Linked DNA regions of Homo sapiens. The protein of the gene in region 1 purifies or fractionates together with the protein of each later gene. This does not show direct contact. Each region holds a gene or a part of one and is shown in the gene's direction. Other genes may lie near its edges.

Region 1 (3,653 bases):
TAGTACTGCTTATTCCTCTGTAGCTCCCACAGGGCAGGAAGGTTTTTTGTTTTGTTGTTTTTTCATACAGTCTCACTCTGTCACCCAGGCTGGAGTGCAGTGGCACCATCTCATCTCACTGCAACCTCTGGCTCCTAGGTTCAAGCAATTCTCCTGCCTCAGCCTCCTGAGTAGCAGGGATTACAGGTGTGCACCACCATGCACAGCTAATTTTTTTGTATTTTTTTTTTTAGTAGAGACAGGGTTTCACCATGTTGGCCAGGCTGGTTTCCAACTCCTGACCTCAGGTGATCCACAAGCCTTGGCCTCCCAAAGTGCTGGGATTACAAGCATGAGCCACCACAACTGGCTGGAAGGTCTTTAAGGACAGAAAACCAGTTACCTTGTTCACTGTATCCCCTACTTGTCAAAACATATTTGTTGAATAAAAGAATGCATAAAATAAAAGAACAAATCCTTCTATTACTTGCCCCTAAGTCATTGCCCTCTTCTCCTTCCTCCTCCGTCTTCCTTTAAACAGGCTTTGGTGGCTCAGAAATCTAATGCATTTTATTTCTCTCTATGTTTAGATATGGATTAGATATAAATTAAGACTGAAATGTAACCTAAATCTGGCTCAAAGACAAGCTGTCACTTCCCCTTCAGAGCTGGTGGGTACTTAGGGAAGCTTGACCTCAGCTTATTTGCTGATCCAATGCCCATAACACACCTTCTCTTCTATGATACTTTTCTTGTCAGGCCAAACAAGACAGACGTAGCAGTGATTCACTAATCTCCTTTTATTTTGCATTAATATGAATTACTAACTTCAGTAATATATAGTAGGCTGGGCACAGTGGCTCACACCTTTAATCCCAGCATTTTGGGAGGCCAAGGCAGGCAGATCACCTGAGGTCAGGAGTTTGAGGCCAGCCTGGCCAACATGGTGAAATCCCGTCTCTACTAAAAATACAAAAATTAGCTGGGAGTGGTGGTGGGCACCTGTAATCCCAGCTTCTCAGGAGGCCTAGGCAGGAGAGTCACTTGAACCTGGGAGGCGGAGGTGGCAGTGAGCCAAGATCACGCCATTGTACTCCAGGCTGGATAACACAGTGAGACAGCATCTCAAAAAACAAACAAACAAACAAAAACTATATAGTATCTGCATTATGTATCCTCCCAACTAGAATCCTAAAAATGTCTTTCAATTATTACTTATCCTCACTTTTCAGCATGGTCTTAGGAGCCACAGAGTGTGAGTAAGACGGATGCCTTTGGCACTTTGACCACTAAGTCTTAGAGAGTTTGGATGAGGGAGTTCAGCAGTCTAGGTTTGGCAGTGCTGGGGAATTAGTCTCAGTACTGCAGAATGTGGATGATGAGCCATTTTCGTTAGATAGATATTTTGCCTCCCCAGCAGCTCTCAAGAAAATCCTGAGATAGGCTCTTAGCTACAGTGCTTGGGAGGGATTTTGAATGGAAAGTGTAGCTGAGTTCCTTGAAATTCTGCACCATTTTTTAAAGGGCTGGTGCTGAAATGCGGGTGCCATATGTAACACTGGAGTAAGAGATATTCTGAGCTCACCCATATTTTATGATCTGTAAGTGCTTAACAAGGTAAAGCAAAACCAAAATGAGGGGGCAGGAGTGAGGAACGTGGGGGGTGGAGCCATCAAAATGCATGTTGGAGATTTCCGAATATGAAAGCATAAAGGCAGGAACAGTAATGGGAATTGGATCAATAGAAAAGTTTAATTAGTAATTTAGGTCAAGCTAAAGATAGTTCGCTAGAGCAAATATTGTAGAAGCATATTTTTAAAGTGTGATTTTTTTTTACATACTAGTTAATTTTTTTTAGAAATAAGTCCAAAAATAAAGGTAAATATCAACATTCCTAACATTGGCAGAAAAGACTCCTGACTTATGAGTGGGATGCTGTTTCCTGCCTGCTAAGGAAAGCTAGGATTCCTAGCTTGTCAGCTTGTTTGAGCGTGAAATCATTGGCTCCTCACCAACCTGGGGATGAAGATTTTTATCCATTCTATGGGGCTCAAGAAAGTTCAGCTCGCAGGGTAAAAAGAGTCTTCGAAGAGCTTTAACTGAAGGGATACGCAGTGTCTCTATAGAGATCCACATCCTCTGTAATGGGAAAGCAGGTGGTTCTGGACCTCACTCTCAGTGAATCCTTCTGGCCCAGAAATGAGGACAGCAGCAGTGACCTACCCTGGTCCTTGGTCTAAGAGCAGGCTTACCCAGCAAGTGGCCAGGTTTCTCTGGCAAACTGCACAGTGATGCTGGCAAATTTATAAAAGACCATGTGGGAAAGTGGAGGAGAAGGAGGTGGAGGAGGTGAAGGAGGTGCAGGAGGAGGAGGACAGGAAAAGCAGACAGTAAGGCAAGTTCGGTGCTGCGTTGGCCTCCTCCTGCAGCTGCCATGGCATGTGGAGAAAGGATTATTATTATAGTTTGTTTACTCTCACATCTATTTCTCTGCAGCATTCTGAAATGACATTGTAAGTATTTACAACAAAGGGAAATGAAAATCAAAGATGTAACTAGAGCAGTAGAGGAATCTTCTATTTGGTAGTTCGAGGTGCCAAAATATTACTCTAATTGCTTTCTAGAGCCTGCTGTGACGTTTTTCGGAGAAGAATTCACTTAGCTACTTCTGTAACATTAGGGTAACCTTGGCCTCTTTTTCCCTCCTAGGTCAGGGCATTCACCCAAAACGCCATTTGCTTCGGGAAATGACTGGTCATGTGGTTCTTCCACTTTCTCTCTCCTGTCTCTCTCTCTTTCTCTCTCTCTGTTGTCTCTGGAGGATAAGCTCACAGCAAGGCAAAAGAGAAAAGCATGAAGTGAAATATTCCTAGGCTTGCCGGGCACGGTAGCAAACGCCTGTAATCCTAGCACTTTGGAAGGCTGAGGCGGGTGGATCACCTGAGGTCAGGAGTTTGAGACCAGCCTGGCCAACACGGTGAAATCTTGTCTCTACTAAAAATACAAAAATTAGCAGGGTGTGGTGGCGTGCACCTGTAATCCCAGCTACTCAGGAGGCTGAGGCAGGAGGATCACTTGAACCCGGGGGGTGGAGGTTGCAGTGAGCTGAGAGGGCACCACTTCACGCCAGGCTGGGTGACAGAGAGAGACTCTGTCTCAAAAAAAAGAGAAGAAACATTCCTAGGATTGTGCCCATAGAAAACAAAGGATTCTCGTTCTAACCCAGTGGCTTAAGGAACATCTTGCTATCTCTGAGTTTGTTAGAGTGACATCAGCCAGTTTGAAAGACCTTGGTAGCTCAAAGATTTTAGTCTCTAGAAATAGCAAGGTGAAAAAAGAAAAGTCCCCCAAATTGTTAAAACATATTTAGACTCAAGTCCCTGTAGGACAAAAATTAAAATATGCCAGAGGGGAAAAATGAAAGTTAATAGTTTGAGAATTAAAAATAAATCGGAATATGTATTTATAATGTTTATTACTCAGAAATGTGATCTTTCCCATAGAATGATCTTTCCGAAAGCAGCTGAATTTTCTTTGAACTCTGAATCTTTCTGGGCCAGTATTTATTTAGGTTGTACTGTAAAAAAAATTACAGGAAAAAAACGATGAGTACATAGCTTCCGGTGTGGTTTAAAAGATTGGGGTAAGGCTGTGGAGGGGTAGTATAAAAATAA
Region 2 (3,653 bases), on another chromosome or scaffold:
TCCTGCTTACTTTTGGAAACATTGTCTCTACCATTACTGAATATTAAATAATAGCCATGTACCCCTCCCTCACACCATATACGAAAATAAAATTATTTGTGGCCTAAATGTAAGCGAAAAATCTATAACCTTGTTTAGGTAATGGTTTATTGATGACACCAAAAGCTCAAGCAGCAAAACCAAAAATTGACAAATTGGGCATCATTAAAATGAAAAATCTTTGTGCTTCAAAAAATGCCATCAAGAAAATAAAAAGACGGCCCACAGAACAGGAGAAATTTTTTATAAATCATATATCTGATAAAGGATTTGTATCCAGGATGTATACATAACCCTTAAAACCCAACCACAAAAAGAGCCCAATTAGAAAATAGGCAAAGGATAAATATCTATCCAACGTGGATACGCAAATGGCCAATAAGCATGTGGAAAGATGCTCAGCATCATTAGTCCTTAGGGAAATGCAAATCAAAACCACAAGATACTACTTAACATCTCCTAGAATGACTGTAATTCAAAGATGGACAATAAGATGTGTTGGGTAAGATCTGAAGAAATTAGAATCCTCATTCACTGCTGAGGGAATGTAAAATAGTACAGTCACTTTGGAAAAATTTTGGCATTTTCTCAAAAAGTTAAATACAGAATTATCATGTGACCCAGAAATTCTACTTCTAGCTACAAACCCAAGAGAAATGAAAACATAGATCCACACAAAATTTTGTATGTGAATGTTCATAGCAGCGTTATTCGTAATAACCAAAAAGTGGAAACAATACAGGTATCCAAGAAATGATGAATGGATAAACAAAATGTGGCATATTCATGAAATGGAATACTATTCAGCTATCAAAAGTAATGAAGTATGAATACATATTACATCATGGATGAGCCTTGAAAACATGCTAGAGAAAGGAAACCAGATGCAATAGGCCACATATAGATGATTCCTATAAATTTTCCCATTTATATGAAATGTCCAGAATAGGTAAATCTGCAGGGACAGAAAGAAGATAAATCGTTGCCACTGGCTATGGAGAAGAAAGAATGGGGAGTGACTGCTAATGGTTTTGGGGTGTTTTGGTGGGGAGGGGAGGTTGAAAACGTTTTGAAATTAGGTATTACTAGTTATACTACCTTGTAAATATACTAAAAAGCCACTGAATTGTACACTTTTTACATTACACTATGTAAATTGTACATCAATAAAGCTGTAATTTTTTAAAAGTATGGATAGTGTCATGTACACCCATGTTAATAATATGGTACTCTGTTATTCCTAGATTTCTCTTTTGACAGTAATAAATTTGATTTCTTTTGCAGCAACAAAATGCTTCAACAAGTTCCAGAAAACATAAATTTTCCTGCTGAAGAAGAGAAAATCTTGGAGTTTTGGACTGAATTTAATTGTTTTCAGGAATGCTTAAAGCAATCAAAACATAAACCAAAGTATGTGAATTTTTTAGGTTAAGTTCCCTTAAGAATAGTCATTTCTTAGACTGAATTCCATTAAAGCAGATACTTTTTTTTTTTTTTTTTTTTTGAGATGGAGTCTCGCACTGTCATCCAGGCTGGAGGGCAGTGGTGCAATCTCTGCTCACTGCTACCTCTGCCTCCCGGATGCAAGTGATTCTCCTGCCTCAGCCTCCCGAGTAGCTGGGATTACAGGTGCCCGCCATCACACCAGCTAATTCTTGTGTTTTAGTAGAGACGGGGTTTCACCATGTTGCCCAGGCTGGTCTCGGACTCCTGACCTCAAGTGATCCACCCACCTCGGCCTCTCAAAGTGCTGGGATTACAAGTGTGAGCCATCACGCGCGGCCTAAAGCAGATACTCTTTATTAATCTTTCTATTCCCAGAATCCCCCAGCTCCCTATGTAGTGGGTACTCAGTAGTAGATATACATTGAATGAATGAGTTCTCAATTATTGGGGTAAATTTTGTTTCTTTAAAAGGTCATCTGAGTAAAATTTATGTGTCATCCTCCGTGTCACCCTCTTTCCACCTTTATTTTCATCACCACCCTCGTTTAGGCACTTATACCTAAGTACCCCATAGAAGGCTACTATAGTACTACCTGCCTTTAGTCCTCATTCACCTAAAAGACTAGTCCTTTAATCAGTGTTTTCATTATATGTCTCCTCTGGTCAAAAACTATGAGATAGGGGTTTATTGCCCTATTTTACTGATGAGATAACTCAAGATCAGGATAAATAATTTGCCTTATGTCATGGAACTAATAAATGAAAAATGGATAATCAAATGGAGGTCTCTGTAGCTCTACCACAATTGTAGCCTTTCTGAAGGCAGGACCACCAGTAAATATCAAATCAATTATGTCTGTCGGTTTCCTGATCTTGCTGCTTTTCTCCTTGAAGACTCCACTATGACAAGAGCTATCTATAGAAAAATGCCTTAAATTTTGGCTGTTTTTAAATGGCTTGATATATTTTTATTACCTGTTAGATTTACCTTCTATGATGGTCCTCCTTTTGCAACTGGACTGCCTCACTATGGACATATACTTGCGGGTACAATTAAAGATATAGTTACAAGATATGCTCACCAGAGTGGGTTTCATGTTGACAGAAGATTTGGATGGGATTGCCATGGCTTACCTGTGGTATGTTTGAGTATCCAGCTTTATAATTTTCTGATTTTTTTTATAAGCATTAGATTTTGTCATATAATATGTTCAAGTATGATGAACGTTGACTGTCAGACCTTCTAGTTCATTTCTATAATATTTGTAGTTTGATTTGTTTTGTTTTCTAGAGTTGCATAGTTGCAGTTGTTTTCATAGGGCAGCGTGGTAACAGTCTTATCACAAATTTTCAGGAATATGAAATTGATAAGACACTGGGAATCAGAGGACCAGAGGATGTGGCCAAAATGGGGATTACAGAGTATAACAATCAGTGCCGAGCAATTGTGATGAGATATTCTGCTGAGTGGAAGGTATGTTGGGTTTTTTTCAGTAGAATGAACAGCAAATGTAGTTACTAAATGGGCATTGAAATGGTTTATGGTCCCTTGTGCTTTTTTTATTAATTTATTTTTTGTAGAAAAAGTGTTAGCTTCCACCTTCAACCCTATTACTTAAACGGTTAGCTTAAACTGAACCATCTCTCTTCTGACTTCTGTGTGCTTAATTGGTCTAACTTTCTTGCATGATCACCAATAGGGAAAAATTCTAATAAGTATAACATGATATATAGGCCTTTTCTTTTTTTCTCAAATACTTTTTTCAATTTTTTTAACTTTTCATTTTGAAATAATTTGACTTATTAAACAATTGAAAAAGTAGTATGATGGGTTCCCCTATATCCTTCATCCATCTTTCCCAGCTGCTAACATCTTCGGTAACCATAATATTAATAGAATTTTCAAAAGCAGTTGCCCCATTAATTTTTATTTCTGACCAATCACATATTGCATTTGGTTGTCATGTCTTTTTAGTCTTCTTAAGTATGGAACATTTATTTAGTCCTTTGTATTTCATGGCCTTCTCACTTTTGAAGATTGCAGAACAGCTATTTTCTATAATGTCTCTCAATGTGTGAGGTTTCCTGATTTAATTTAGGTTATGCATTTTTGGTGACAATGCCACAGAAGTGATGCTATGCCCTTCTCAATGCATTATATCAGGTGG
Region 3 (3,653 bases), about 99 Mb from region 1:
TCAAATCTCCTTGGGATCTTTCTAGAAATTGCATTAAATGCAGAAAATAATTTGGGTAGTAAATTTTGATCAGTAGTATGTAATTATCTTGAGCCCCATTTTTTTAAATACACTTTTTCCATCTCCTTTGGCAAGAGAACTTTGGTAAGCTGTTTACTGAATTTATTAAAATTCGTCCTTTCTAAAATATAGACCATCTATTCCTAGGCCCTTGGACTGGACAGTGCCAATGAGAAAGGCTTGTATAGGAGGGGTGAAGCCCAGCTGCTCATGAACGAGTTTGAGTCAGCCAAGGGTGACTTTGAGAAAGTGCTGGAAGTAAACCCCCAGAATAAGGCTGCAAGACTGCAGATCTCCATGTGCCAGAAAAAGGCCAAGGAGCACAACGAGCGGGACCGCAGGATATACGCCAACATGTTCAAGAAGTTTGCAGAGCAGGATGCCAAGGTGTGTGCAGAGCCTGATGACTGCAGGTGGATCAAGAGCCTGACCATGCCCCTTTGATTTTAGGGGACAGGAACAGCTAAACAACCCAAGAGGCTCAAGAGCAGGGAAAACGATTTCCAATCTAATCTGAGGCTGCTTTGGATCCAAAGGTCGAGTAGGGCAGTTCCAGTCACCAAAGGCACACGTCATGAGAGATGAGAAAACTAAATTCCCTTCAGATGTATTAGATTGGTTCAAAAGTAATTGTGGTTTTTACCATTACTTTCAATGGCAAAAACAGCAATTTTGCACCAACTCCCCCCGCCCGCCCCCCGGGCCCCTGCCCGAGTCAGAGTCTCACTCTGTCACCCAGACTGTAATGCAGTCGTGCTAACATGGCTCACTGCAGCCTTGACTTCTCTGGATCAAGTGATCCTCCCACCTCAGCCTCCTGAGTAGCTAGGACAAGCACACTACCACACTGGGCTAATTTTTTAAAATTTTTTGTAAAGATAGGGTTTCACTTTGTTGTCTAGGCTGGTCTCGAACCCCTGGCTTCAAGGGTTCCTCCTGCTTTGGTCTCCCAAAGTGCTGGGATTATAGACATGAGCCACCATGCCCAGCCCTTTTGTCATTTTTGAAAAATTGTAAACCCATCAGGATTTTTTTTTCAAGTAAGACTTACGATTTTCCCAGGAAATGGGATGTTATAGGAGCCCCATCATCACACCTGTTATCTTGAGGGTCGGCAGCCAGCCTGAAAAATGTGGCAGGAGAGGTCTGTCTGCAGAGAGGGCGGCCTCCCTACAGCATAGTTGGCATTCTGGTCCTGTCCCCAGTCTCCAGGAATGCCCAGACTTCATTATCCCACAGCTGTCCCATGTGTCAACCAAAGAAAGGTGAAGCTCCCACTCTAACTATTGGTAGCACAGCCCTGACCTACCCAGCTAGATATCCTAGAGAAAATCATTGCAATACCTCGTGTTTGGGACCTGATACACAGTCTGGAGGAGCCAGGAATTATTTCACTTCTTTATTCTCTAACCTTCTTGATTGCTTATTTCTTCCTTAGGAAGAGGCCAATAAAGCAATGGGCAAGAAGACTTCAGAAGGGGTCACTAATGAAAAAGGAACAGACAGTCAAGCAATGGAAGAAGAGAAACCTGAGGGCCACGTATGACGCCACGCCAAGGAGGGAAGAGTCCCAGTGAACTCGGCCCCTCCTCAATGGGCTTTCCCCCAACTCAGGACAGAACAGTGTTTAATGTAAAGTTTGTTATAGTCTATGTGATTCTGGAAGCAAATGGCAAAACCAGTAGCTTCCCAAAAACAGCCCCCCTGCTGCTGCCCGGAGGGTTCACTGAGGGGTGGCACGGGACCACTCCAGGTGGAACAAACAGAAATGACTGTGGTGTGGAGGGAGTGAGCCAGCAGCTTAAGTCCAGCTCATTTCAGTTTCTATCAACCTTCAAGTATCCAATTCAGGGTCCCTGGAGATCATCCTAACAATGTGGGGCTGTTAGGTTTTACCTTTGAACTTTCATAGCACTGCAGAAACCTTTAAAAAAAAAATGCTTCATGAATTTCTCCTTTCCTACAGTTGGGTAGGGTAGGGGAAGGAGGATAAGCTTTTGTTTTTTAAATGACTGAAGTGCTATAAATGTAGTCTGTTGCATTTTTAACCAACAGAACCCACAGTAGAGGGGTCTCATGTCTCCCCAGTTCCACAGCAGTGTCACAGACGTGAAAGCCAGAACCTCAGAGGCCACTTGCTTGCTGACTTAGCCTCCTCCCAAAGTCCCCCTCCTCAGCCAGCCTCCTTGTGAGAGTGGCTTTCTACCACACACAGCCTGTCCCTGGGGGAGTAATTCTGTCATTCCTAAAACACCCTTCAGCAATGATAATGAGCAGATGAGAGTTTCTGGATTAGCTTTTCCTATTTTCGATGAAGTTCTGAGATACTGAAATGTGAAAAGAGCAATCAGAATTGTGCTTTTTCTCCCCTCCTCTATTCCTTTTAGGGAATAATATTCAATACACAGTACTTCCTCCCAGCATTGCTACTGCTCAGCTTCTTCTTTCATTCTAATCCTTGCTATTAAGAATTTAAGACTTGTGCTTACAATATTTTTGACCTGGAGTGGATCTATTTACATAGTCATTTAGGATCCATGCAGCTTTTTTTGTCTTTTTAAGATTATTGGCTCATAAGCATATGTATACTGGTTTATGGAACTTTATTTACACTCCTCTATCATGCAAAAAAATTTTGACTTTTTAGTACTAAGCTTAATTTTTAAAAACAAAATCTGTAGGGTTGACAAATAAATAGTTGCTCTTCTACACTAGGGGTTTCACCTGCAGGTTTGACACGCAGTTGCTCGCTTTTCCTGCCCTGTCAAGCTTCTCTGTTCTGGCGTGAGTTGTGAAAGAGTTGAAGACAGCTTCCCATGCCGGTACACAGCCAGTAGCCTAAATCTCCAGTACTTGAGCTGACCATTGAACTAGGGCAAGTCTTAAATGTGTACATGTAGTTGAATTTCAGTCCTTACGGGTAAACAGATTGAGCATGGCTCTCTATTCCCTCAGCCTAAGAAACACTCATGGGAATGCATTTGGCAACCCAAGGAACCATTTGCTTAAACCTGGAACATCTCACCTTTTTAAATCCTAAAAAACACTGGCAGTTATATTTTAAATTAGTTTTTATTTTTATGATGGTTTTATCAAAAGACTTTTATTATTAGATTGGGACCCCCTTCAAACCTAAAAATCAAGTTATTTCCTTTTATAATACTTTTCTTCCCCATGGAACAAATGGGATCAATTTGTGAGTTTTTTCCTTTAATGATAACTAAAATCCCTCTAATTTCTCATTTATGCTTTTGTCTTTTTTATGAAATATTTCTTTTAAAAGCCCCAGTCTCACCTACGAAATATGAAGAGCAAAAGCTGATTTTGCTTACTTGCTAAACTGTTGGGAAAGCTCTGTAGAGCATGGTTCCAGTGAGGCCAAGATTGAAATTTGATACTAAAAAGGCCACCTAGCTTTTTGCAGATAACAAACAAGAAAGCTATTCCAAGACTCAGATGATGCCAGCTGTCTCCCACGTGTGTATTATGGTTCACCAGGGGGAACTGGCAAAAGTGTGTGTGGGGAGGGGAAGGGTGTGTGAGTGGTTCTGAGCAAATAACTACAGGGTGCCCATTACCACTCAAGAAGACAC

What was found.
Region 2: the proteins of SGK1 (region 1) and IARS1 purify together in Homo sapiens (affinity purification with mass spectrometry, with the first as the bait; one large-scale study listed by BioGRID). This does not show direct contact.
Region 3: the proteins of SGK1 (region 1) and FKBP5 purify together in Homo sapiens (affinity purification with mass spectrometry; 3 studies listed by BioGRID and IntAct, with this or other methods). This does not show direct contact.

What each region holds. Positions count from the first base shown.
Region 1 is NC_000006.12:134,308,059-134,311,711, reverse strand, and holds part of SGK1 (serine/threonine-protein kinase Sgk1), read left to right. Parts: intron 1-3,653. UniProt on the Homo sapiens protein: Serine/threonine-protein kinase which is involved in the regulation of a wide variety of ion channels, membrane transporters, cellular enzymes, transcription factors, neuronal excitability, cell growth, proliferation, survival, migration and apoptosis.
Region 2 is NC_000009.12:92,287,097-92,290,749, reverse strand, and holds part of IARS1 (isoleucine--tRNA ligase, cytoplasmic), read left to right. Parts: intron 1-1,323; 5' UTR 1,324-1,330; coding exon 1,331-1,449; intron 1,450-2,467; coding exon 2,468-2,624; intron 2,625-2,776; coding exon of another isoform or gene 2,777-2,839; coding exon 2,840-2,959; intron 2,960-3,653. UniProt on the Homo sapiens protein: Catalyzes the specific attachment of an amino acid to its cognate tRNA in a 2 step reaction: the amino acid (AA) is first activated by ATP to form AA-AMP and then transferred to the acceptor end of the tRNA.
Region 3 is NC_000006.12:35,573,788-35,577,440, reverse strand, and holds part of FKBP5 (peptidyl-prolyl cis-trans isomerase FKBP5), read left to right. Parts: intron 1-207; coding exon 208-447; intron 448-1,498; coding exon 1,499-1,606; 3' UTR 1,607-3,653. UniProt on the Homo sapiens protein: Immunophilin protein with PPIase and co-chaperone activities. Component of unligated steroid receptors heterocomplexes through interaction with heat-shock protein 90 (HSP90).